7 linked regions of the Homo sapiens genome follow. The protein of the gene in region 5 purifies or fractionates together with the protein of the main gene of each other region. This does not show direct contact. Each region holds a gene or a part of one and is shown on either strand. Other genes may lie near its edges.

Evidence for each region.
Region 1: the proteins of UPK1A (region 5) and ABCB10 purify together in Homo sapiens (affinity purification with mass spectrometry; one large-scale study listed by BioGRID and IntAct). This does not show direct contact.
Region 2: the proteins of UPK1A (region 5) and SLC15A4 purify together in Homo sapiens (affinity purification with mass spectrometry; one large-scale study listed by BioGRID and IntAct). This does not show direct contact.
Region 3: the proteins of UPK1A (region 5) and TMEM164 purify together in Homo sapiens (affinity purification with mass spectrometry; one large-scale study listed by BioGRID and IntAct). This does not show direct contact.
Region 4: the proteins of UPK1A (region 5) and IMPA2 purify together in Homo sapiens (affinity purification with mass spectrometry; one large-scale study listed by BioGRID and IntAct). This does not show direct contact.
Region 6: the proteins of UPK1A (region 5) and FZD1 purify together in Homo sapiens (affinity purification with mass spectrometry; one large-scale study listed by BioGRID and IntAct). This does not show direct contact.
Region 7: the proteins of UPK1A (region 5) and ABCA3 purify together in Homo sapiens (affinity purification with mass spectrometry; one large-scale study listed by BioGRID and IntAct). This does not show direct contact.

What each region holds. Positions count from the first base shown.
Region 1 is NC_000001.11:229,531,208-229,534,707, forward strand, and holds part of ABCB10 (ATP-binding cassette sub-family B member 10, mitochondrial), read right to left. Parts: intron 525-3,500; coding exon 429-524; intron 1-428.
Region 2 is NC_000012.12:128,792,959-128,796,458, forward strand, and holds the end of SLC15A4 (solute carrier family 15 member 4), read right to left. Parts: exon of another isoform or gene 1,909-3,500; intron 1,399-1,908; coding exon 1,238-1,398; 3' UTR 236-1,237; downstream 1-235. UniProt on the Homo sapiens protein: Proton-coupled amino-acid transporter that mediates the transmembrane transport of L-histidine and some di- and tripeptides from inside the lysosome to the cytosol, and plays a key role in innate immune response.
Region 3 is NC_000023.11:110,001,894-110,005,913, reverse strand, and holds the start of TMEM164 (transmembrane protein 164), read right to left. Parts: upstream 2,801-4,020; 5' UTR 2,736-2,800; intron 2,414-2,735; 5' UTR 2,140-2,413; coding exon 1,750-2,139; intron 1-1,749.
Region 4 is NC_000018.10:12,005,507-12,009,006, reverse strand, and holds part of IMPA2 (inositol monophosphatase 2), read right to left. Parts: intron 670-3,500; exon of another isoform or gene 598-669; coding exon of another isoform or gene 416-597; intron 1-415. UniProt on the Homo sapiens protein: Phosphatase that can use myo-inositol monophosphates, myo-inositol 1,4-diphosphate, scyllo-inositol-1,4-diphosphate, glucose-1-phosphate, beta-glycerophosphate and 2'-AMP as substrates in vitro.
Region 5 is NC_000019.10:35,669,517-35,673,016, reverse strand, and holds part of UPK1A (uroplakin-1a), read right to left. Parts: intron 1-3,500. UniProt on the Homo sapiens protein: Component of the asymmetric unit membrane (AUM); a highly specialized biomembrane elaborated by terminally differentiated urothelial cells.
Region 6 is NC_000007.14:91,268,825-91,271,826, reverse strand, and holds the end of FZD1 (frizzled-1), read right to left. Parts: 3' UTR 501-3,002; downstream 1-500. UniProt on the Homo sapiens protein: Receptor for Wnt proteins. Activated by WNT3A, WNT3, WNT1 and to a lesser extent WNT2, but apparently not by WNT4, WNT5A, WNT5B, WNT6, WNT7A or WNT7B. Contradictory results showing activation by WNT7B have been described for mouse.
Region 7 is NC_000016.10:2,295,729-2,299,228, forward strand, and holds part of ABCA3 (phospholipid-transporting ATPase ABCA3), read right to left. Parts: intron 2,813-3,500; coding exon 2,658-2,812; intron 2,194-2,657; coding exon 2,038-2,193; intron 1,812-2,037; coding exon 1,601-1,811; intron 13-1,600; coding exon 1-12. UniProt on the Homo sapiens protein: Catalyzes the ATP-dependent transport of phospholipids such as phosphatidylcholine and phosphoglycerol from the cytoplasm into the lumen side of lamellar bodies, in turn participates in the lamellar bodies biogenesis and homeostasis of pulmonary surfactant.

The sequences.
Region 1 (3,500 bases), on a different chromosome or scaffold from region 5:
CAAGAAACTTAGATATTTTCTTATGTCTGATTCCTCCTCCCTTATTCCCACCCTAGCCCTCCACAGAGATGTCAGAATCACTAGGGAAGATCAATTTGGTAAACTAGCTGGGACACAGCCCTGGGCCACACTGACTTCCATCCTGCCCTTTGCGGTAACACCCAGATGGAGGGAGGGGAACAGAGGGCAGCACACTATGTGGCCAGCCCATGCATCCAGGGACACCCTGGCCCACAACAGTGCCCCAGCAGCTGTCCCACCCCCTCTCATAGAAAACCTGACCACCTCCTCACCCGGCCCGCCATGCAGCAGGAGCCACATCCTTACTGTGGCTCATCCCTCACTCCCTTGCAGACAGGGGAAGAGCTGGTCTCATTGTTCAAAGCCACATTTGTTAATCCTAGCAAAGAAACAATTTTCAGACCCACCGTTAAAAGGCAGCTTGGGCTCTCTCTCCAGGAGCTCCCAGAGGCGCCCCCCTGCACCCAGTCCTTTCATCAGCTCCGAGTAGAAAGAGCTCAGACCTGAGGATGAGAAGCAGAATCCACACACATGTCCATCACTGGCACTGGCACTGGCCACCACTCCTCTGAGAGGAGTGACAATGATTGCTTTTAATATAAAATCTGTTATTAATATTTTCAAAAAACAACTTGAGGCAGCTTCCTGGGAACTGATACTCAGAATTGCTTGTCTCATACTCTAGTTTTCCTTTGGCTTCTCCTCCTCCAGTTTCATAGTTTTTTTTTTTTTTTTTTTTTTTGAGACAGATCATCACTCTGTCACCCAGGCTGGAGTGCACTGGCACAATCTCAGCTCACTGCAATCTCCATCTCCCCAGTTCAAGTGATTCTCCTGCCTTAGCCTCCCGAGTAGCTGGGATTACAGGCGCAAGCCACCAGGCCTGGCTAATTTTTTTATTTTTAGTAGAGATGGGGTTTCGCATGTTGGCAAGGCTGCTCTCAAACTCCTGACCTTAGGTGATCCACCCGCCTCAGCCTCCCAAAGTGTGGGATTATAGGCATGGGCCACTGCACCTGGCCACATTTCACTGATTTCTAATAAGGACTTAATGTTTGATCAGGGATTGAAAAACATATATAGTCATACTCATCAACCACTGGATTAAAATCATAATGCCGCAGAGGAAATCTACCTAGTTAAAAGCATTGTAATTTAACTGAAATGTAATGCTATCTCATAATTTAAAAAAATATAAAATACTTCAATGTTGATTTTAAAGACAAATCCACAAAATAATACCTCACCTTCAGCCACTCAATAAATACAACTTTGATACGCTACTCACATACTCCCATATACTTCAAGTAATCTCTAGATTACTTATAATACCTCATACAATGTAATGCTATGTTTAAAAAAAAAAAAAGGGCCAGGCAAAATGGTTCATGGCTGTAATCTCAACACTTTGGGAGGCCAAGGTGGGAGGATTGCTAGAGCCCAGGAGTTCAACATCAGCCTGGGCAACATAGAGAGAACCCTGTTTCTACAAAAAATAACTGTAAGGCCAGGCCTGGTAGCATGTGCCTATATTCCTAATTACTTGGGAGGCTGAGGCAGGAGGATTGCTTGAGTCCAAGAGGTTAAGGCTGCAATGAGGTATTACTGCACCACTGCACTCTGGCAGCACTCAGAGCAACAGAGCGAGACCCTGTCTCAAAACAAAAAACAACAACAACAAAACTTTCACAGTAGTAAAAACTGAAATAAATTTGGTTAATGTTAAACATTCCAGCAATCTCTTTATTTTTATTTTTTTGTGGAGACAGGGTCTCACTATGTTCCCTAGACTGGTCTTAAACTCCTGGGCTCAAGCAATCCTCCTGCCTTGGCCTCCCAAAGTGCTGGAATTACAAGTGTGTGTCACCGTCCCTGGTCTCTAGCCATCCCTTTTTAAAGTCAGCTTTGAACCATTATTATTATTTTTTTTTGAGACGGAGTCTTGCTCTGCTGTGGTGTAGTATCTATCACTGAACCTCTGCCTCCCAGGTTCAAGCAATTCTCCCTGCCTCAGCCTCCCGAGTAGCTGGGATTACAGGTGCCCCCCACCATGCCTGGCTAATCTTTGTATTTTTAGTAGAGATGGGGTTTCACCATGTTGGCCAGGCTGGTCTCCAACTCCCAACCTCAAGTGATGTACCCACCTCAGCCTCCCAAAGTGCTGGGATTATAGGTGTAAGCCACCATGCCTAGCCTGAACCATTTAACAACTTAAACCCCAAATGCAATGGTCTACATCAAATGTGAGGACATACATTTGTAACATTTTCCCTCAGTGAGGATGCTGAAAAAATACAATTCAAATATTCTACAGTATGAATATTTATGCAAGATACAATGGACTAAAATTTTTAGGCTGAATTAAAAATGCATTTGGCAAAAATAGACCCCCATAAACAGTCAACTGATTTTTGACACAGAAGCAAACGCAATACAATGGAGATGCAACGGCAATATACATATTATCTTTTTAACAAATGGTTCTAGAACAACTGAATATCCACATGCAAAGAAGGAATCTAGACACAGACCTTACACCTTTCCCAAAAACTAATGTAGAGTGAATTACAGACCTAATGTAAAACACAAAACAATAAACTCCTAGAAGGCAACCTAGGAGCAAGTGTAGATGACCTTGAATTTGGTGATGACTTTTTAGATACAATACCAAAGGTACAATCCATGAAAGAAAGAAGCTGGACTTCATTAAAATTAAAAATGTATGCTTTGCAAAAGACAATGTGAAAAGAAGAGGACCAGCCACAAACTGGAAGAAAATATCTGTAAAAGACCTATCCAATAAAGGATTGCTACCCAAAATATACGAAGAACTCTTAAAACTCAACAATACGGAAACATGAAGACTTACTTAAAAATGGTCAAAAGTCCTGAACAGACAACTCACCAGAGAAAATATACAGAGAGCAAATAAGCATATGAACAGACGCTCAACATCATATGTCATCAGGGAAATGCCAACTAAAACAACAATGAAATACCATGCATCTATCAGAATGGCTAAAAGCTAGAACACTGACGCCACTAAATGCTGGGGTGGATGTGGAGCAACAAGAACTCTCATTCCTTGCTAGTGGGGATGCAAATGGGACACACATTTTGGAAGGCAGTTTGGGAGTTTCTTACAAAACTAAAATTTTTTTTGTAAGAAAAAAATTCATTCGGTCACCATAGAGATGTCAAAAATTGCCAATGCTGGCCGGGTGCGGTGGCTCACACCTGTAATCCCAGCACTTTGGGAGGCCAAGGTGGGCAGATCACTTGAGGCCAGGAGTTCAAGACCAGCCTGGCCAACAGGGTGAAACCCTGTCTCTACTAAAAAAAAAAATACAAAAATTAGGCCAGGCGTGGATGGCTCATGCCTGTAATCCCAGGACTTTGGGAGGCCGAGGCAGGTGGATCACCTGAGGTCAGGAGTTCAAGATCAGCCTGGCCAACATGGTGAAACCCCGTCTCTACTA
Region 2 (3,500 bases), on a different chromosome or scaffold from region 5:
AGGGTTTTTTGGTTTGTTTTTTGTCTTCTCCAAATGCTGAAACTACCCTTCCATGCAGAGGAGGCTGCAGAATCAGGAGACGCGCCGGAGCATCCGAGGGCTGTGCAGGAGCGCACTTCCCCACCCTCCCCTCAGTTCCCGACTCGGGAAGCTCTGCGCCTTCTACACGACAGGGGAGGAATCCACACGCCACACCAGCAGCGACTGAGGACAAACCACGCAAAGAACCGGCTCATGGATTTCGCATTTGAGATGCTTTTTATAATAAAGTTATGCCAAAAATACAGCAACAAATACAGAAAAAGTATTAACAAACGGAGAAGCCCCAGATACACGTACAGTAACAATACAAAAATGTGACTGGTCAAACAGCTCAAGTTCACATTTAACACTTTCAATTATTTTTAATTACACTATTTCTGTTCAAAAGAATGTTTTCCTTACATACAACCATGATCAGTCTTTAGTCTCAATCGTACCAAAATAAAGCTATATATAAGCACTCTGACTAGGTAAGGTGTGAAGTACCCCGTGAGTTGCTCTGTGGCTTGAGATGGGACACATGGTCTCAAATGACTCTTATGCATGCCTTGCCTTAAGAAAGAAAAGTAATGTTGATGGTTTAAAAAGTAAGTACTTTTTGAAGCAGCAGATGAAATGTGTTTACTACCAGCCTAAATCAAAGAACATGGCAAGAGCAAGATTGTTCTCAGGAAGGAAACCATAAATATGGCATTTATGTAAAATCCTTGCAGCATCTGACCATGCTTTTATCTTTAAAAAAAAAAAAATCCTCACTTTCTTAAATATAAGTAACAGTTTATTAATTTTTTTTTTACAGTGAGATATGGCTATGGGAAGCAGGTGATACTATTTGTTTAAGAAACTGGGATGCCAACTAACACGTGGAGTTCCCCAAGACTTTGCAATCTCCATTTGTGAGTTTCTGTAAAAAAGGGAACCCAGCTAGAGGATTCACAGAGACCTTGAATGACAAGCGACATACTCGAAATCTGCAGCTCTCCTCCCGGAGGGCCCAGCGTGCCAGGAGACACGCTGCAGTAAGGCACTTACCAAGCTCCTTTGGATAGAGGGAAAGAAGAAATCAATCCAGGCAACATGCAAGTTTCAGTGAAGTCAGACATTTTATGGGAATTTAAAGTCTTGCCTGTTCTCAGTGCACCCCAGTCAGTTACTGACATGTCAGCCTCAGAAACCGCACATGGCCTCAGGAAGGTCAGGCCCTCCTGCTGGTGGGCACGCCATTGGCTCTTGATCGCTGATGGTCTCGATGATGGTCATATTTCACAGAAATAATGAGGAAAAGCAGGAGGGTAGCTCCTTGAATAGCAGCCAGAAGAAAAAAGTAATAGTTCAAATAGCAGCCGTTAATATTACCTGGAGAAAACAAAAGGAAAGCGGCAGGTAAGCTGCGCTGCTACAGGTATTTTTTCAAGACTTTACTATTTAATCTGGTTCCCACTAAGGTTTAACTGGAGTCATAAAAAAAGTAACAAATGTTGTCTCTGTAGTCCAAAATGCACAAGCATCTTGCTTTCAAAACCACTGAAGAAGCTCCCTGAAGTCAGATACATCGCCACCGGGGGCTCTGGAGGTGGGCTGTCTGCAGCCCCCCACCTGCCCCTAGCAGCCCATCCCTCTCTTCTGTAAGGTAAAAGGAGGAGGTTCCCTGAGGAAACTAGAAAAGGTAGCTCCCCAGTACTCAGGAAAATCCCTGCGTGGCCTGCAGACACACATGCGGTGGTGAAGGGGACAGTGTCGACGGAGAGTGTGCCTAAGGCCGCACGACAAGGCTGCAAATCAGGAGCAAGGGGAAACCTGCCAACCCAGCCTCCTGTGACTGCTAATCCCCCCACACCAGAACAGCTGGGCAAAGTAAAAAATTACCTTCCTGTGTTCTTGCCACCAGAAACAAGTGTTAGCCGGTCTGGTGTTATTTCCTTCCTGCCTTTTCTGAGGCAGTGTTCCTCTCCTCAACTACTTCAGGGGAACTTCCTCCATTTATAGTTATGATTGGCCTGGAACTGCATTGTTGAGGAAGGCAGATGCGAAGATAACAAAAGAGCGCCTGACTATCTCTTTATCGAATCCTGAGGTGAGCGTCTTTGTAACTTGGCTATGGAACCTGTGCACTTTTTAGCATCACAGATTGCACTATGACACAGCCTGAACATCGTGAATTCTGGATTCACTGCATGGGTCACTGACACACCCAACACACCAGGGCCGACAGCTGGGCAATGTATCAAAGGAAGAGATGAGCTGGTTTCTGAATGTGTCTTAAACATGTTCAGGTTTTAGCATCCTCAAACTGACACAAGCAGATACCTCTGCATACTTTAATACAAAGAGTTAGCATACACTGAATACCCAACCGAGTCCCGGGCACTATGGAGGCACTTTACACGCAACGTCTGCATCCCAAGCAGGCTGGACAGCACAGAGGATAAGATCATGGGCCATGCAGCTCAAGCTATAAGGCTTGAATCCGGCCTCTGAGACCTCTGTGCTCAGTTTCCTCATCTGTAAAATGGGGAAAGCGCCGAGGAGCAGCATTTCAGAAAGGCACTCAAGAGGGAGTCTGGACGCGGTGAGGGTGCTAGCAACACGTGCCACGGTCATGATCCCCCTTTCACAGAGGTCTGGAACTGTCCACTCTGCAAACTGGCAGTCTCTCCGCCAGAGAACAGAGTTCAGCCAGCACCGGCTAACATCACCACTCAATGTGCAGACGTGGGAACGACGTGTGAGCAGAAAACGGCAGGACTTTTAGCTCGTCATGACTGGTCATCCAGGCCAAGCCGAGTGTCGCCCTGTGCTCTCCACCACGGCTGCTCCTGCCACCATGGCGTCCCTCTGTCTCCGTACCATGTACATCACCTGCCACCAGCTGGAAAGCACTGCTGCACGTTTCTGCACGAGGTCGCAGGTGCGTGTGGCCGGCAACATCACGAGGGGAGCGAGTGCTCTGGAATCAAGTTGCTCCATTTTCTGCTCCTCTTCAAAAACACTTTCTCATTTGTTTATTTTAAAAAGTGAGACTTCCTTTCTTCTGAAGACCTTTTTAAAGCTGGGTTATTCTGGCACTTCCTTTTTCTATCTGAACATATACTGCATGTTCAACAGTGCATTTATCAAATAAACACAATATAATACACGTCTGGGCCAGGCGCAGTGGCTTATGACTGTAATCCCAGCACTTTGGGAGGCCAAGGTGGGTGATCAACTGAGGTCAGGAATTCAGAATCAGCCTGGCCAACACGATGAAACCCCGTCTCTACTAAAAATACAAATAATTAGCCAGGCGTGGTGGCTGGCGCCTGTAATCTCAGCTGCTTGGGAGGCTGAGGCCAGAGAATTGTCACTTGAACCCGGGAGGTGAAAGGCTGCAGTGAGCCAAGATGGTACCACTGCACTCCAGCCCGGGCAACAAACGTGAAACTCCATCTCAAAAAAAAAAAAAAAAAAAAAAAAAAAAA
Region 3 (4,020 bases), on a different chromosome or scaffold from region 5:
TTGTCGACCTTCTAGATATGTGATTGCCAGAGGCCTCAAGACCACTTTGTAGAAGATGCACCCTTTGACCCTCACCACCTGCCATCCTAAAAAAGCACTCCTGTCCCGACAGCCTCACACAGCATCGGCTGAGATGCGTTGTTTCCTATCATTAACAAAAAGCCCATTCATAAAAAAAGAAAGAAAGAAGACTGGCTCAAATTTACACAGAAGGTCTAGCTGGGACAGCCCTGGACTTCCTGTGAATGGCATCACTTCCCAAGAAGCCCTCTCTTAAAAAATGCTGCCCACTCCAGCCCCGATGCTTACAGCCACCCAATCAAAAACAGCCACTTTATTCCAAAGTTATCCATACCTTCTTACCATATCTGCAAGAAGGGAAGGGGCTGGGGTCATTCACCACATCCAGAAGCCTGCAATCAAATGAGTTCCTAGGAACACAGTGCAAGCAAGTATCCAAGCCATGGGTAGACAGTGTGGTGCTCATCTGCCTGAGTCTTCCCACAGGACTGCCCCACCACCCACTGCCACCCTCACTTTGGGGTTGACAGCTTGCAACCTCAAGGTGGATGAGTTTGCTTTCTAACCCAGGCACTAATTCATCTTCTGGCTGCAAGCAAATGACCTGCCATTCCTAAACCCCTCCAGGCCTGTAAAATGGAGATAATAATCTCAACCTCCTGCCCCAAGCTAGGCTGTCACAAGTCTCCAAAGAATAACCTTCTACAAACATAAAGGCAGTAAAGATGCTAATGACAGGTTTCAAAACTGCCCCTGAATAAAACACACCCGGTTTTCCACAGCCTGAAATCTAAAAAAGACTGATTGCTCTCCCAGTCTCCTCTTCCTCCTCCTCCATGATTTTATAGCTTTAGAACATCTCTCCACACAGGCTGAATACAGACAGTCTCACTCTTGGTCCTCACCCAGATTATTTTTATGTATCTGGCAACTTGCCTTTTCAATCCCATTTGTTTTCCTTAGCACCGCTAATGGGTGGAAGTCGATGAGGTAAAGAAATCAGCTTCCTAAGCACCCTTGGACTATGACCATAGGAGACAGAATGACAGTAATAGGATGGAGAGGTTTGCAAAAAAAGAAATACCCTCTCACCATAGTGATCACCAGCCCAAAGTACACATGTCAGCCTGGGGACCTGCTTCAGAACTCATTTAGTAGGAGCTTGGTGCTGCTCCAATGCCTCAAAATGCAAAGGCAGACCTCACTCTAAGAGCATACACTCCCAAATGAAAGAGTCATTAAGAGAAACCTGTAAAAGTATTTCCCCAAAGTACCACAGTGTAGATGAGAAAGTTTATGCGACCACCTCCAGGAAAGAGTGTCACCAGGCCCCTGGGAAATTAACTACCACAGAAGGCAAGGGAGCTGGGTCATGGTCCACTGATGTGATTCAGAAAGGGCACCTGGCTGGGGCTGGAATTCCTGCTTGTGAAAGCCCAGGGCACGGCAGGGTTGGGCTGGGCTGGAAGGGAGGGGCAGCCAGGGTGAGTGCCAGTCGTTCCTAGGGTTCAGGCACAAGGTTCCTCACCTCCACTGTGGGGCTGACGCACTGTGCAAAGGTGAAAGAAAGCCAAACCTGAAATCGGCACAAAGGCAGCCACTCGTTGGAAAATCATTTTTAAAGGTCCCCCTGCCCGCCGGGATGAGGTGCTGTACACTATGGAGTGTCCTGAGCACATAAATGACTCTTATCACTTAGGATGCCCAGGAAAAAGTCAACAGACTCACATGCATCATGGTGACCAGGTGACAGGGGTTGAGCAGGTAGATGACGGTCTTGGTGGCGAACTTAAAGCCCACCTCCACCCCGAAGGTCAGGCACAGGGCTACTAAGAGCAGATTCTTGCTCAGGCTCTCCTTGCCTTCCTCTGGCCGCTGGGTCACCTGCTCTGGCTGGCTGCCAGGGCTACCCCTACCGTCCTCCTTCGTCTGCCTCAGGATGTGCCGCAGGGCCACCAGGATCTCCAACAGAGCCAGGGTCAGGACCACCACACTTTCCAGCAGCCGCTGCTGCCAAGAGAGGAAGGCAGCACAGTCGGGGCCCCCATTGCCTGCAAAACTGGGGTCCACGCCCCCATAGAGCCAGTCCAGGAGACTCTGGTAGCTATACCGGGACATGATGCAGTGGTTCCCCTTGACCACAGTACAGGAAGCAAGAGTGAGATGGAACACAAGCCCAGAGGGTTGCCCGGGTGGTGGACCATGTAAGGCGGGCACACCCCCACAACCCCCCTCCAGACACCAGGGCACCGAGAGTAGGGGAGGGGAAGCTACACGCAAGGCCCGGGGTAAAGTGCTGGCTCTAACTTGTCCCCACGGCTGTCTGGGGGAGCCCCCCGCGCTTCTCCAGTGGCCACCAACGAGGCAGGGTTGAAAGGAGCCGTTGGCCAATCTAAAAGGAAGGAGAGGAAAAAAAAAAAAAAGAGGTCTCAAAGAGGCAATTGCACCGGGAATTAGGAAGCGGGAGGGGTAACTAGCGAGGGAAGAAAACGGGAACGGGGCAGTGGCGAAGCAAGCAGGGGTCAGGGGAAGCCGGAGGCCGAAAGGGTCAGGGCGGGGGCCAAGGAGACCCGGCAGTGCTGCGGCAGCGAACCGGGAGCCAAAAGGGGTCAGAGCTAGGGGACACGCGGAGGCAAGGAGAGGAGCTAGCGGGGCCGAGCAGGCGGGGAGGGCGACGGGGATGGCAGGGACGCCGGACTCCTCGTCTCACGCACTCGCCACAGAGGGATCTCTTACTCCTGCAACCGCGTGGCCGTCTCTGCCCCCAGCTAGCAACTTCGCCGCCGACGGGCCCCTCCAGCCAATTTAGAGCCGTCCTTGTCCAGCCTCCCGCCCCCGGGTACACCCCCGAACCCCCAGCTCCACCCTCCGGCCCTAGACGCCCGCCCTCCGGGCAGCACCACCCCCAGCCCGCGGCCCGCCCGGGACCTGCCCCCCTCGCGCAGGCAGCGGAGGGAGGAAGCCAGAGGGAAGGCGGGAGGCCGGGCCAGCCGGGGGCTGGACTAAAGCCGGCCCCTGGACTAAAGCCGGCCCCCCTCCCTCCTCCCCGGCGCCGCAACCTCCCGCGCCTCCCGCCCAGCCCCGGGGACCGGCCGCCGCGCCCCTCGGGGCTTCACTCACCGGCAGCTCGGCCCGCGGCCCCGGATCGGGCTACTGCTCCGCTCCCGCGCTCTCCGCGCCGGGCGCTCGGTTCCCCTGGCGGCCGCCGCCGCGGCGCACGGCTCCTCCTCCCCGTCTTCCTCCCCCTGCAGCAGCCGCGCTCGCTTCCTCCTTCTTCCCCTCCCTCTCTCCTCCCCCTCCCCGCTGCCACCGCCACTGCCTCCCTCCTCCCGTCCAGTTCAGCTCTCGCCCCACCACACGCCCTCGGGCCACGACTACTCCTCCTCGCCTCCTTCCCTTTTCTGCCTCTGGCACTCCCCTCACCCGTCCACCATTCACACCTCCCACCCTCCGCGGCTTCGGCTCTCCCTCCTCCTCCTCCCTCCTCCTCCCTCCTCCGGCTCAGGCTCCGCCTCCTTCCGCCTCCTCCCTGGCCTGCCTCGTCTTCTGCACTCGGAGCCTGCACGCGTGCACAGCCACCCTCCTTCACAACCGTGTACAGAATTCGCCCCCTCGGTGAAGCCCTGTTGACTGGCTCCGCCTCCCGCGACCTGGTTCTCCAGGGCACTTCTTTCTATACTGCACACATAGTAGGCACTTAGCTGGCCCGCACTAACTTCTTGTGGGGGAATAAGCCTTTCTAGTAATGAGCAGCTTGGCTTCGGGGTGTGTGCTGGGTATGGCCGGCTCCTCTTCGCGATTCCTCCTTTCTGCCACGACTCATGCAAGGCCAGAAAGGCATCTTCTCTCCCCTTTCTAGCCACAGCCCCACTCCACACTTCAGTGCCTAGGACAGGAGCTTCATTTCCCTGCTCCTCCCCCTCCTGCTCTGATCCACTATTTTCTCTCTACCTCTTGCCACACAGACCACCCCTGCCACACCCTCTCCCTCTCCCACTT
Region 4 (3,500 bases), on a different chromosome or scaffold from region 5:
ATGTGCCCTGTGCAGGCTCCACTCCTCCATGTGGCCTGCTTGACACATTCCTGCTAGAGGGACATGGGCGGCCTGCTCCTGCACTCTGCAGCAGGCCCTGGGCTGGCCCCTCCTTTGTAATGAGTCCCTCTGCAAACAAGGCCCCCTACAATCCTCACTTGAGTGTGCGTCTGTCCTGCTAGGAACCTGACCGAGACAATGTTCTCTCAAGATTCACCTGCACAGAAGGGAACTCCTGGTTTTCTCTACTTGCCTCTACCTCCACGAATGGCAACTCCCAGCACCCCCTGCTCAGGCCAAAAACAAGGGAAAGCACTCTCGCCCCATGCACTGTCACCCTTCCTCCTGCACCCCACCCACACGCAGGCCCACACACACAGGGAAGATGCTGTGGTCAGGTGTATTCGCAGCCCACCTTCTGCAGGCTGGTCCCTGTGGAGCTGGCCGCTGTTTACACCTTCCAAAGGCATTCTCAGGATCAAAGAAAAGACTAGATCTAAAGCATTCAGGGCAGTGCTTTTGACACTCTTGGACTGTCCCAAGTTCACTAAGGGTGAGGCCTTGGGCAGGCGCTAAGCAAACATCTGTTCTGTGCATGACTATGTGGCCTTGCCGAGAGGTTTTCTATCCAGTTCCTGTGCCGGGTTCACATGTGTACTAGAGAAAAAGGAGACCTGCAGAGAGTAAGAAAAAGAAAATAAGTGAAAAACAAGCAAGGCGCGGTGGCTCACGCCTGTAATCCCAGCACTGTGGGAGGCCAAGGCGGGCAGATCACCTGAGGTCAGGAGTTCGAGATCAGCCTGGCCAGCATGGTGAAACCCTGTCTCTACTAAAAATACAAAAATTAGCTGGGCGTGGTGGTGGGCGCCTGTACTCCCAGCTACTTGAGAGACTGAGAGAGGAGAATTGCTTGAACCCAGGAGGTGGAGGTTGCAGTGAGCCGGAGGTTGCAGTGATCCTAACGTTGCAGTGAGCTGAGATCACACCGCTGCACTCCAGCCTGGGAGAGTGAGACTCCATCTCAAAAAGAAAAAAAAAGAAAAAGAAATAAAAATACAAAAATTAGCTGGGGGTGGTGGCGCACGCCTATAATCCCAGCTGCTTGGGAGTCTGAGGCAGGAGAATCGCTTGAACCCAGGACGGGAGGGATGCAGTGAGCCGAGATCATGCCATTGCACTCCAGCCGGGGTGACAAGAGTGAGATTCCATCTCAAAAAAAAGAAAAGAAAGAAAAGAAAAAGAAAAGAAAGAAGGAAGGGAAGGAAGGAAGGAGAGAGAGAGAAATAAAGAAGGGAAGGAGGGAAGAAAGGAAAGAAAGGAAAGAAAGGAAAGAAAGAAAGAAAGAAAGAAAGAAAGAAAGAAAGAAAGAAAGAAAGAAGAAAGAAAAAGAAAGAAAGAAAGAGAAAGAAAGAAAGAAAAGAAAAGAAAGAAAAGAAGGAAAGAAAGAAAGAAGCGTCCCATGTTCTGGTGTTTGGTGTATTATCCACTGTGGTCATCAGCCTCCTGGAAGCCACTTTCCCCGCACGAACCATGTGGTCTAAGATTTGGCATCAATGAACTTTTGGATAAGGCTGGAGACTTGAGTGTGAATGGAAAGACTGAAATGAAAACCTCTGTGACCGCTCAGCGCCTTACAGTAGCCAGTCACCGCATATGGCTGCTTACATTTGAATTAAATAAAGACTTCAGTTCTTCAGTCTCATGAGCCACCTTTCAAGTGCTTGGCAGTCACGTGGGTGAGCGGCTACCACTGTGGACACAGCAGATGTGGGCCACCCCTGCAGCAACAGACAGAGCCGCTGGCAGTGCTGTCCTCCCACCGAGATGCTGAGAGGCAACAGCAGGCATCTCATGGTATTCGATGTCACTTTTTTTTGGAGACAGAGTCTCGCCCTGTCGCCCAGGCTGGAGTGCAATGGCGCGATCTCAGCTCACTGCAACCTCTGCCTCCCGGGTTCAAGCAATTCTCCTGCCTCAGCCTCATGAGTAGCTGGGATTACAGGCGTGCGCCACACGCCTGGCTAATTTTTTTTATCTTTAGTAGAGATGGGGTTTCACCATGCTGGCCGGGCTGGTCTTGAACTCCTGATCTCGTGATACGCCCACCTCAGGCTCCCAAAGTGCTGGGATTGCAGGCGTGAGCCACCACGCCTGGCCCGATGTCACTTTTCTATGCACGGGAGCTGCCATACACACTGTAACCACCCTGGTCCCCATCCACTCTGGGACCATCCTTCCACTGCTGGGTTATGAAGTTCATGCCTGGGATGCAGAGTCATCCAGCCCCTCCATTTTGCTGATAAATTATCTAGAAATACAACCCTGGGATACGACAAGTGCACGCATACATCATCTCAGGCTGTGCGACCTCCTCCCCGGCCCCCTGGAGAAACCCACGAATAAGCAGGGGCTTCTGAGCCAAGAAGACCAGGTCAAGTCAAGCCAGGAGCACTAAGCAAGACACCCAAGGAATCATCAGCTGTTCCTGGAGAGCCTGGGCAGGCTCAGTCTGCCCCTGGAGCTTTCAGCCTAGCCAGGCAAGGCAGATGAGATGCAGTGAACCCAGGCTTCTGGTTCTTCATCTACACTGCACGCCTTGCTCCTTGCAGGAACTGCCTCTCCACTCTCAGTTGTCCACATGCTTCTAGGTCAGGTGATGCACAGGCCCACCAGCCAGAGCCCCTGCTCAGGAACTGGTGCTCCCCAAACAGATCTAGGAGGAAAAATGGTGGGTAGAAGCCACAATGGCAGCCGGGGCAGGGGGTGGAGAGGCTGCCTCCTGACAACAGCAGCCTGCAGGAGACACACAGGTGATGATTCCACTTAGGGCGTGATCATAAGTGCTGTCAGCACTGCCAGTTTTCCTAGAAACTTCAGGCACTAAATCTGTTTTTCCATGTCTTCTGTAGCTATGTGACTTTCCTCTTCTGTAATGGCTTGCAATGACGTTTTTAAAGAAAACGCTCCACACCCTGAAAACACACATACAAGGAGCAACTACGAAAGCTTAAACTGGGCACAAGGTTGACAAAGCAGCGAACAGATATGACTCAGGTCCAGAGGGACTAGAAATGACTCAGGCACAAAGGTAAGTTTCTAAGAAACTGAGGAGGAATGTGCAATTCTTCTCCTTTTTAAACCTGACTTCAAGTAGGAAACTGAAGCGGTGGAAAGAAAACTGCCAGTGAGCCCTGAAGGAGGAGGCAGTGTGGGTCTGCAGGCACTGACACTCCACACCCAGGACAACTCACGCTGCAGCACCCAGACCACCCACGCGGCATGCCCACGTGCCTCCCAGGACACTCGGGAGCAGGAGCTCTGTCTGTTCATTCGCCAGATGCGTGGGACACCCTTTAGGGAAGTCACCAAGCAGCTTGTTTTCCCAGCAGCAACTATTAATATAAGTTAATTTGTTAACAAAGCTTCTGCTGTGTGTAACCTTTATTATTTATCTATTTGTTTTTTAGGTTTCATTTAGTGTAACCCAGCAAGTACTTTTA
Region 5 (3,500 bases):
CAGGCGAGGCGTGGTGGCTCACGCCTATAATCCCAGCACTTTGGGAGGCCGAGGGGGCGATCACCTGAGTCAGGAGTTCGAGACCAGCCTGGCCAACATGGTGAAACCCCTTCTCTACTAAAAATACAAAAATTAGGGCTGGGCATTGGTGGCTCACACCTGTAATCCCAGCACTTTGGGAGGCTGAGATGGGAAGATTGCTTGAACCCTGGAGTTCAAGATCAGCCTGGGCAACACAGTGAGACCCCGTCGCTACAAAAAATAAAAATAAAAAAATTAGTTAAGCATAGTTACTACTAGTGGTAGTGTTAGTCCTAGCTATTTGGGAGGCTGAGGTTGGAGGATCGTTTGAGCCCAGTAGTTGGAGGCCTCAGCGAGCTATGATCGCACCACTGCATTCCTGCCTGGGCAACAGAGCAAAACCCTGTCTCTTAAAACAAAACAAACAAGGGTGGGTGCAGTGGCTTACGCCTGTAATCCCAACACTTTGGGAGGTTGAGACGGGTGGATCACCTGAGGTCAGGAGTTCAAGACCAGCCTGACCAATATGGTGAAACCCCATCTACTAAAAATGCAAAAATACAAAAATTAGCTGGGCATGGTGATGGGTGCCTGTAATCCCAGCTACTCAGGAGGATGAGATAGGAGAATAGCTTGAACCCAGGAGGCAGAGGTTGCAATGAGCCGAGATTGTGCCATTACACTCCAGCCTGGGCAACAGAGTGAGACCCTGTCTCTTAAAATAAAACAAACAACATAAAACGATGTTCTCAGATAATCAGAGACATTTGACACAGACTGGGTATTGGAAGATATAGAAGAACTTGATTGAATTTGGTGGGTTGTGCCAACGGCACAGAGGGCAGGAGAAAAAAAAAAGCTTGTCAGTTGATGTTTAATGCAAATTCTTTTCATGTCCTCACCTGGCACCTTCATCTATAAAGCAGCAGGAGGTTGCGTGTGGATGTGTGAACTCTGCTGCTGGGAGATGGATGACATTGCACAACCTCCTGACTGCTTTAAAACAATGTGCTTATCACTCAGAGAAATGTGTGCTCCAGTATTTACAGGCAAGTGACTTGGCATCTAGAATGTGCTTCAAAATACCCAGAAGAAAAAGTATGAGAGAAGGGGGATAGAGGAGACAATGTCGGGCAGTCTGCAGCTGATGTTGTTGAAATCAGGTGAGAGGTATGCAGGGCTCAAATACTGCGGACTCTAGTCTACTTTAGAAATTTCCTGTAAGAAATTTGGGGGCCGGGCACGGTGGCTCATGCCTGTAATCTCAGCACTTTGGGAAGCCGAGGTGGGCGGATCACGAGGTCAGGAGATCGAGACCATCCTGGCTAACACGGCGAAACCCCATCTCTACTAAAAATACAAAAAAAAAAATTAACCAGGCGTGGTGGCAGGTGCCTGTAGTCCCAGCTACTCGGGAGGCTGAGGCAGGAGAATGGCGTGAACCCGGGAGGCGGAGCTTGCAGTGAGCCGAGATCGCACCACTGCACTCCAGCCTGGGCAACTGAGCAAGACTCCGTCTCAAAAAAAAAAAAAAAAAGAAATTTGGGGAGAAAATGTCTTAGTTAATGACAAACTAATGGGGAAACAGACACAATTTTTTTTTTTTTTTGAGACAGAGTCTTGCTCTGTCGCCCAGGCTGGAGTGCAGTGGCGCGATCTCTGCTCACTGCAAGCTGCGCCTCCCGGGTTCACGCCATTCTCCTGCCTCAGCCTCCCGAGTAGCTGGGACTACAGGCGCCCGCCACCACGCCTGGTTAATTTTTTGTTTTTTAGTAAAGACGGGATTTCACCGTGTTAGCCAGGAAGGTCTCGATCTCCTGACCTTGTGATCCACCTGCCTCGGCCTCCCAAACTGCTGGGATTACAGGCGTGAGCCACCGAGCCCGGCCCAGACACAATTTTTAAAACTAGTTGGGTGACTTTTTAGGGCTTTGGTTAAATTGTTATGCCAGATAATTAAATACAGGATAAGAAAATAAGAGGGCAGGTGTGGTGGCTCATGCCTGTAATTCCAACACTTTGGGAGGCTGAGGTGGGAGGCTCACTTGAGGCCAGGAGTTGGAGACCAGCCTGGGCACCATAGTGAGACTCCATCTCTACAAAAAATACAAAAATTAGCTGCACATGGTGATGCACACTTGTAGTCCCAGCTCATTGGGAGGCTGAGGTGGGAGGATCATTTGAGATGAAGAGTTCGAGGTGGCAATGAGCTATGATTGTGCCACTGCACTCCAAACTGGGCAACAGAGTGAGACCCTGTCTAGAGAAACAAAGAAAGGAAGGAAGGAAGGAAGGGAGGGAGGGAGGGAGGGAGGGAGGGAAAGAAGGAAGGGAAGGAAGTCCATGGCTCCATCGTACCCAGGATAAAGCCAAAGTCCACAATACCTGCCTGTCTAGAAAAATGAAGGAAGGAAGGAGGGAGGTGGGGAGGGGAGAGGAGGGGAGGGGAGGGGAAAGGAGGGGAGGGGAGGGGAGAGGAGGCGAGGGGAGGGGAGGGGAGGGGAGGAGTCCATGGCTCCATCTTACTCAGGATAAAGCCAAAGTCCACAACACCTGCCTGTGTAGAAAAACGAAGGAAGGAAGGAAGGAGAGGGGAGGGGAGGGAAGGGGAGGGGAAGGGAGGGGAGGGGAGCAGGGGGTCTATGGGTCCATCTTACTCAGGATAAAGCCAAAGTCCACAACACCTGCCTTCCCTCCTGCTTCTTTCCCATCCCCATTCCTCACTGTTCTCCTCCCCATCTGTCTGCCTCATGTCCTCTCACCCCCCAACCTCCTCCTCACTCAGCTCCAGCTGCTTTGGACTCCTGGCCCGCTCTGGCCTCAGAGCCTTTGCCCTTGCTGCCACCTCCACCTGGAAGGCTCTTCCTCCAGTTACACACCTGCCTCGCTCCCAGTGCCTCTAGGTCTTTGCTTTCCCTGGCAGTGAGGTCTTCCCTCGCCCTCCTCGGCTCCTGACCTCCCCTCCTGTTCACTGTCTTCCTCCTCTGAGCACCACTTCCCTGGGTCAAGGGCTTTTATGTTTCGCTCAGCACAGAGCCCCAGTGCCCAGCGTAGGGCTCAGCATGTAGCTCCTGCTCATAAGCATTTGTTCATCAAATGAGTGGCTGCTTCTGGGAATCTGAAAAACCCTCTGCTGTCGAGGAAACACAGTGCTGTCTCTGTGTCATTGGGGCCGTGAATTGGAATCCCTGCTCTCCTGGTCACCTGGGAGAGGCTGTTAGCCTCTTTGAGCCTCAGTTTCCTCATCTGGTAAATGGGTTGAAAAGCACTAGCTGTGAAGGGCTTCTGGCAAGATTGAGGAAGCTCATTTTCTTTCCTTTTTTTTGAGATGGAGTCTCGCTTTGTCATCCAGGCTGGAATGCAGTGGTGTGATCTTGGCTCACTGCAACCTCTGCCTCCCGGGTTCTAGTGATTCTTCCGCCCCAGCCTCCTGAGTAGCGGGGATTACAGGTGCCTGCCACCATGCGTGGCTAATTTTT
Region 6 (3,002 bases), on a different chromosome or scaffold from region 5:
CATCTTTTAAAAAATGTGTGTGTAAAATGTACAAATCATTGCTATTTTAATACTTTGCTTTTAGAATTACTAGTCACACAAATATGCCATTCAACTAGTGTATTAATAATACCTCAAGAAAATGCAGTGTTATTTACATTTTATCATTCAAAAATACACCTCTTTAGAATACCAATGAAATAGTTTACTTAATCTCTTTTGGAAAATTGTATCTTATTCTTTCAAGCAATTTAAGGATCTGCTTGACTCATAAAACTGACGATGACCCACAGAATACTTATTATATGTTCATTGTGTACATGTACTTATAAATTGTATTTGAACTTATATATTATTAGAAAAATTTCTTTGAGAAACCCTTTTGTTTGACCTGTTATTAGGGTCCCAAACCAACCTATAAACAAAGATCCCCAGAGGAAGTATTATATTTGAATAGCAACTTGATTCTGTAATGGAGTAGAGACATTTGTCACCACAAAACATGATACAACTTAGAAAAATTACTCTAGAAATTGTGTTTTAATTTCCAGGTTCTAAGCAAGCTGTTTTGTCACTATAATTGTTAAAGTTTAACATATCCATTGTCAAAGGTATGACCAAAATGAATAAAAATATTTAAGCCCAAAAAGTTTAAGGGAACTCTGAGACATAATTGATGTTCAAGTACCATTTTTCAAATGTTAAGGGCTATTGGCATCTGCCAACATTCAAAACAAACATATATATCTTGAGAGTCATCAAAATAAACTTTACTTTTTTGGTACTTCCCTTGTAAGATCCCATTTTAAATGTAAGGACATTGAAATAAAAGCCTTCAATTTAAGATAGTATTGCAATTCCTTTTTAGTCATGTAACTAGATAATTCTTATATATATTCCATGTCTTATGTTGGTTCCTACACATTAATCCTGCAAGCCTTTGACATTAGTGTATTCTGCAAAGTATTCAATGACAATATCACCAGCGTCCACCTCTAGACATACGTACGACTACATTTTGCTTCTAATCTCTCAGGCCCCAGTTACACAGACTATTATAATAAGAAATGAATCAGAGATATCCAATGCCATGACACAGGTTTCAATTAATTGCATGTGCATTATATAAATTGTGGCCAATAGTCAATAGATGGATTAGAAAGCAAAAGCACACACAGTAAATATGCATCTTAAAAAAAATGTATACCAAGGTTGAAACATGCTATCAGGGACAGTGATCTGCGGCCACTCAAGTCCTGAAATGATTTATGATGTAGTCTATTATTTTTCTTAATTGGCCACCAACTCTTCATTGTAGTCTCCTTTCCTAGTTAAATGCTGGACATTAAGGTGATACAACTACACCAGAAGGCTTCAGTACTTACAGTGGAGACAAAAGGACCAGGCCAGTAAACTCAGGCTGACAAGTGACTACCATAGGACAAGCTGAAAAAATCCGGCCCGGCTCTTTTGCACGTGTTTGACACTGGCTGGCTCTGAAATTAAAAATATGACTCTCTGTCCCCACAAAGCTTAAGTGGAAAACTGCTTTTTTAGAAAGAAGAGCTTCAGAAGTCTTTCATACTACTTATATATTTACTCCAAAAGCTAAATTAAGTACACTGTGAGGGGGGAAATTGACCCCAATTTATAGCTGGTTTAAAAAAAAAATAGGCAAATCAAACCATCTGAAAATAGGGTTTGTCATGGAAACAGCAATGCTAATGGGACAGTATCCCAAGTAGCCTTATGGTTTTCCAGACACGTCCTATTTTGCCACCAGTATTAAAAGAAATAAAAGAATACACTGGTTTTCTATATGCATCATCATTTAGAATAAATTGTTTTCTAAGAATAAAGGCTGGTGGTGACTTAAAAATGTCTTCTAAAGCTATTTAACCACAGCATGTAAAACCTTTCTGCATCAAATTTATAGTTACATCATGTTAAGGACACCTCCAATAAGACTGCTTTAAAATATAGTTTTGGATAGCAATTAATGTCAAAAACATGTTTTTCCAGAAATTATCTAATTGAACTACTTAGTGAGGAGATATGTGTGAATTTGGCCTAAGAATACTATTTTTTTGTGTATGTCTATACAATAAACCCTCTATCTACTATATTATGTTAATGTAACAAAGAAAAAGGGAACACAAAATTGCATCTTGCTACTTAAAATCAAATGCTACATTTTTAGTAAGATCTAATTTTTTTGATTTTCCTTAAAATGAATAATGACTTATAAGACAATTGCATTGTAACAAGGAAAGTAACTCTATTGTATCAATGATCTTCATTTTAGTCCCTTGTCATTTTATCACAAAATGTTTTCATGGGAAAATTTAGTAAAGATATTTTTAACCTGTAAAGGTATTTGAGGTTTTCCATCTAGCATTTTCCATTTCTCATAACCATATTTCCATATTATGAAATGTAAGTAAACTTTACATCTCTATTTTATAAAAATTAATGCATATATACTTATGTGTATACTTATCTATATATACACATATATACACCCATGCATAAATTCTGACTAAGAGTAGACCAACTAGATAATTTATCTGGAGAAGGTTCCTTGAACGATTAAAAAAAGGGGTCTTCAGAAGCAAACAACAAAACAGCCTTACAAACCCAATTGCTGTTTAAAATGTTTATGAACACATAGCCAGTTAACCATTTATTGATTGCCTATTTAGGGTTTTGTAATATCCAAGATTATGGAAGAGATAAGACAATACCTCTAAAAAATATGAGAAAGGTGATGATTTAAAAATAAACCTCCATAATATAAAAAGTCATGTAAATTTATTCCCTGAAAGAAAAGAAAGCTTTAATATTAAAATTAGAGTTCTCTTTTAATCCTCTTTGAGTAAAGAAATAATTTGCAAACTTCTATTTTCTACTGTCATGAAAACAGATCTTTTCTTGGGACTTCACAAATGTCAATCACAACAATGCAAACAGAGTAATTCTTTGGAAAGACTGATCTGAGGGTTTAAGGGTAGACTTTTTTCATT
Region 7 (3,500 bases), on a different chromosome or scaffold from region 5:
GATAGCCGGCACCTGGAATACAGGGCCACGTGTGAGATCTTTGGCTGATCCCCCAGGTCTCTTCATGCCCACCCCGGGGTCTCTAGGGCTCACACCAGGCAAGCTGGTGGGAAGGAGGCTAGAGAACCGGAGGTGGGCAGCTGAAGCAGAATGAATGTGTCTTGGAGCTCCCTGTGCTGTCCCAAGGGTGTCACCTCCCGCTCCTGCTGGGAAGAGCTGCTGGGGATCTAGGGTGCTGAGCACTGTCAGGGGCACCTGCTGGAAGGTGGGGTCTCCCCCCAGCTATACAAGCACCAGGGAAGGATATCATCAGCAGCGACGGACCACGTGTGAGGGCTTCTGTCTTGTGGGGTTAACACTGATGGTTATGGTGTGGTTCTAGGAAGGGACTGTCAGCAGGAGCAGGAGCAAGAGCTACCGGCTGCAAGACCGCACTGCACGGCACTATCAGAGATGCATCTCACCTCTTTCCCAACGTCACCGTGCAGGAGATGGAATTCCATGTCCTTTTTTTTTTTTTTGAGACAAGTCTCACTCTGTCACCCAGGCTGGAGTGCAGCTGCACAATCTTGGCTCACTGTAACTTCTCCCTCCTTGGTTCAAGTACTTATTCTCCTGCCTCAGCCTCCCCAAGTAGCTGGGATTACAGGCATGCACCACCATACCTGGTTAAGTTTTTGTATTTTAGTAGAGACAGAGTTTTACCATGTTGGCCAGGCTGGTCTTGAACTCCTGACCTCAAGTGATCTGCCTGCCTTGGCCTCCCAAAGTGCTGGGATTATAGGCGGTGAGCCACCACGCCTGGCCCCATGTCCTCTTTAGAGACAAGGATGCCAGGCCCAGGAAGAACAATGGCTCTGCCAACTGGGCAGTGGGGCAGGAAGTGGCTAGTGAAACTCTCAGAGGCCGTGGTGGATGGTTCCTCATCTCCTAACGCCTGCTGTCCTCCCTCTTGGTAACAAAACCCTGGTATCTTGGCTGAGCATGTGGCTGCCCAGGACAAAGGCCATCCCCTCCAGCCTACTGCTGACCACACTGGGTTGCCACTCAGTCACTAGGGGGCAGAAGTGGGACGTGAACTTGGGGGGTGTCCTGAGGGGAGGAGGGCTCCTATGTCTTTGCTCCACCCCGTTGGAATGTGGGGGACGCTGGCACACCCAGATCGTGCTGGACCAGGAGGTGACCTTGAAAGGGAAGCCGTAGTTGCACAGTACAGTCAGAGGTCTGGGCCCAGATCCTGTCAGCCCCTGCTGGCCCTGGCCATGCTGTGAGCTGCTCTCACGTGGGAGCTGCCATGTTGGTGCGTGTGTTGGCCTCTCCAAGGGCAGTGCTGCTCCTAGTGGCACTAGGCTTGGCCTCTGTTCTTCTGGTCATGGCTGAACCACATCCTAACCAAATTGAGACTTTCAGCTCCATTTCCTGCCTCTTCCCTCTCACAAGCCCCCCTGCCTGGTTGGGCTCTCCACCCAGAGGCAACAGACAGGAAGTCTAGAAAAGGCCACCCCTGCCTGATCTGAGGGCCCTTCATGAAGGTAGCAGCCATTCCCTCAGCACGGCAGCCAGGACACCGACCCTGTCGCGGGCTGGCCCCACCGCTCACCGTATTTCTGCTTGAGGAACAGCGAGGACCCGCAGCACTGCAGCTCCCCCTTGGCCATGATGGCGATGCGGTCTCCCAGCAGGTCAGCCTCGTCCATGAAGTGGGTGGTCAGCACGATGGTGCGGTCACTTTTCTGCCGCTGAAGAAGATCCCAGATGGCCCTCCTGGAGATGGCGTCCATGCCCGAGGTGGGCTCGTCCAGTATCAGCACCTGGAGGGAGAGACACAGTCTCGCGACGCTGGTAGAGCCACACCCCGGGCCCAGGCTGGCCTTGCGGTAGGCCCCATCGAGGGGTTCGCGGAGCCGGCTTGAGTCCTCCAAGGATGGTGATGGCCTTGTCTGGGGTGTCAAGGGCCAAGGTGCCCGGGCCATGGCGGAAGGGCCATCCCAGGTCGAGCAGGAGGGGAACCCACTGCCTCCAGTCCCACCGCCACACCTTGGAGCCTGCGATGAGGGCGATGCCGATGGAGAGCTTGCGCCTCATGCCCCCGCTCAGGAAGCGGCTCCGTGAGTTCCACTTGTCCTCCAGGCCGATGATGTGCAGCATCTGCTTGACTTCTTCAGGGCACTTCTGACGTGACAGGCCCTTCAGCTGCAACGACAGGGGACGCAGGGAGATGCAGGGCTCCTGGCGGGAGGCCGACCCTGGCCAGCGAGGTTCTGGTGAGAGGAACCTCTCCTTGACGTAGCTGGGGAGATGCAGGGCTCCTGGCGGGAGGCCGACCACGGCCAGCAAGGTTCTGGTGAGAGGAACCTCTCCTTGACGTAGCTGGGGAGATGCAGGGCTCCTGGCGGGAGGCCGACCACGGCCAGCGAGTTTCTGGTAAGAGGAACCTCTCCTTGACGTAGCTGGGGAGATGCAGGGCTCCTGGCGGGAGGCCGACCCTGGCCAGCGAGGTTCTGGTGAGAGGAACCTCTCCTTGACGTAGCTGGACTCAGAACCCTGGCTCCTGCCCTCCTGGCTCCCTTCCTCCAGTTTAGCTCCTCGGAAGACTGCCCCAGAAACTCGAGCACATCAGTGGAAACACCCCTGCACACCCCTGGCCCCCAACTCACCTGGGCGTAGAAATAAAGGTGCTCTGCGACTGTCAAGTTGTCAAACAGGATGTCGTGCTGCGGGCACAGGCCCAGGCTCTTCCGGATCTGAACCATGTCCTGGGAAATTTCATACCCGCTGATGTATGCCCGTCCACTGGTGGGGGGAAAGAGACCTGGGGCCCAGCAGGAGACCCCACATTCAGCATGAAGATCCTGCTCGTCAGCACCCGCGGTAATGACCCCCCACCCCCTCTCTGTCTCCCCTAATTTCCTCTGAGGACCCTGCCCATGAGAGGGCACGGAACCCCACTCCCACTGGGGTGGGCTTTGGCTGGGCCAGTGGGAAAAAGAAGCGGCATGGAAACAGCCCTGCCACTGGGACGCACAGCTGGTCAGGGAGGAGAAACCCACGACACACACACACAGAGTCACCACAATCAGCCCCCGCCCCGGGTCCCAGCCTGTGCCACTGCCAGACACTTTGGTGCTTGGGGAAGACAGAGTGAAATGCCAGTGGCCGGTGTGGTGCACAGGGGAGAGCTCTCAGAGAGGGGTTTGGTGACAGAATTAGCATGGGGTTGAGCTGCTCCTGCGTGGTGGCCTCTGTTTTCACTGACCCTGTCAAGCTTGGGTATTCACAGACAGAGGCGGTGAGGAGGGCAGGGGTCCCTGGGGGTCCCCCTGCATTCATGGACAGAGGCGGTGAGGAGGGCAGGGGTCCCTGGGGGTCCCCCTGCATTCACGGACAGAGGCGGTGAGGAGGGCAGGGGTCCCTGGGGGTCCCCCTGCATTCACGGACAGAGGCGGTGAGGAGGGCAGGGGTCCCTGGGGGTCCCCCGGCATGTCCCGGACAGAGGCGGT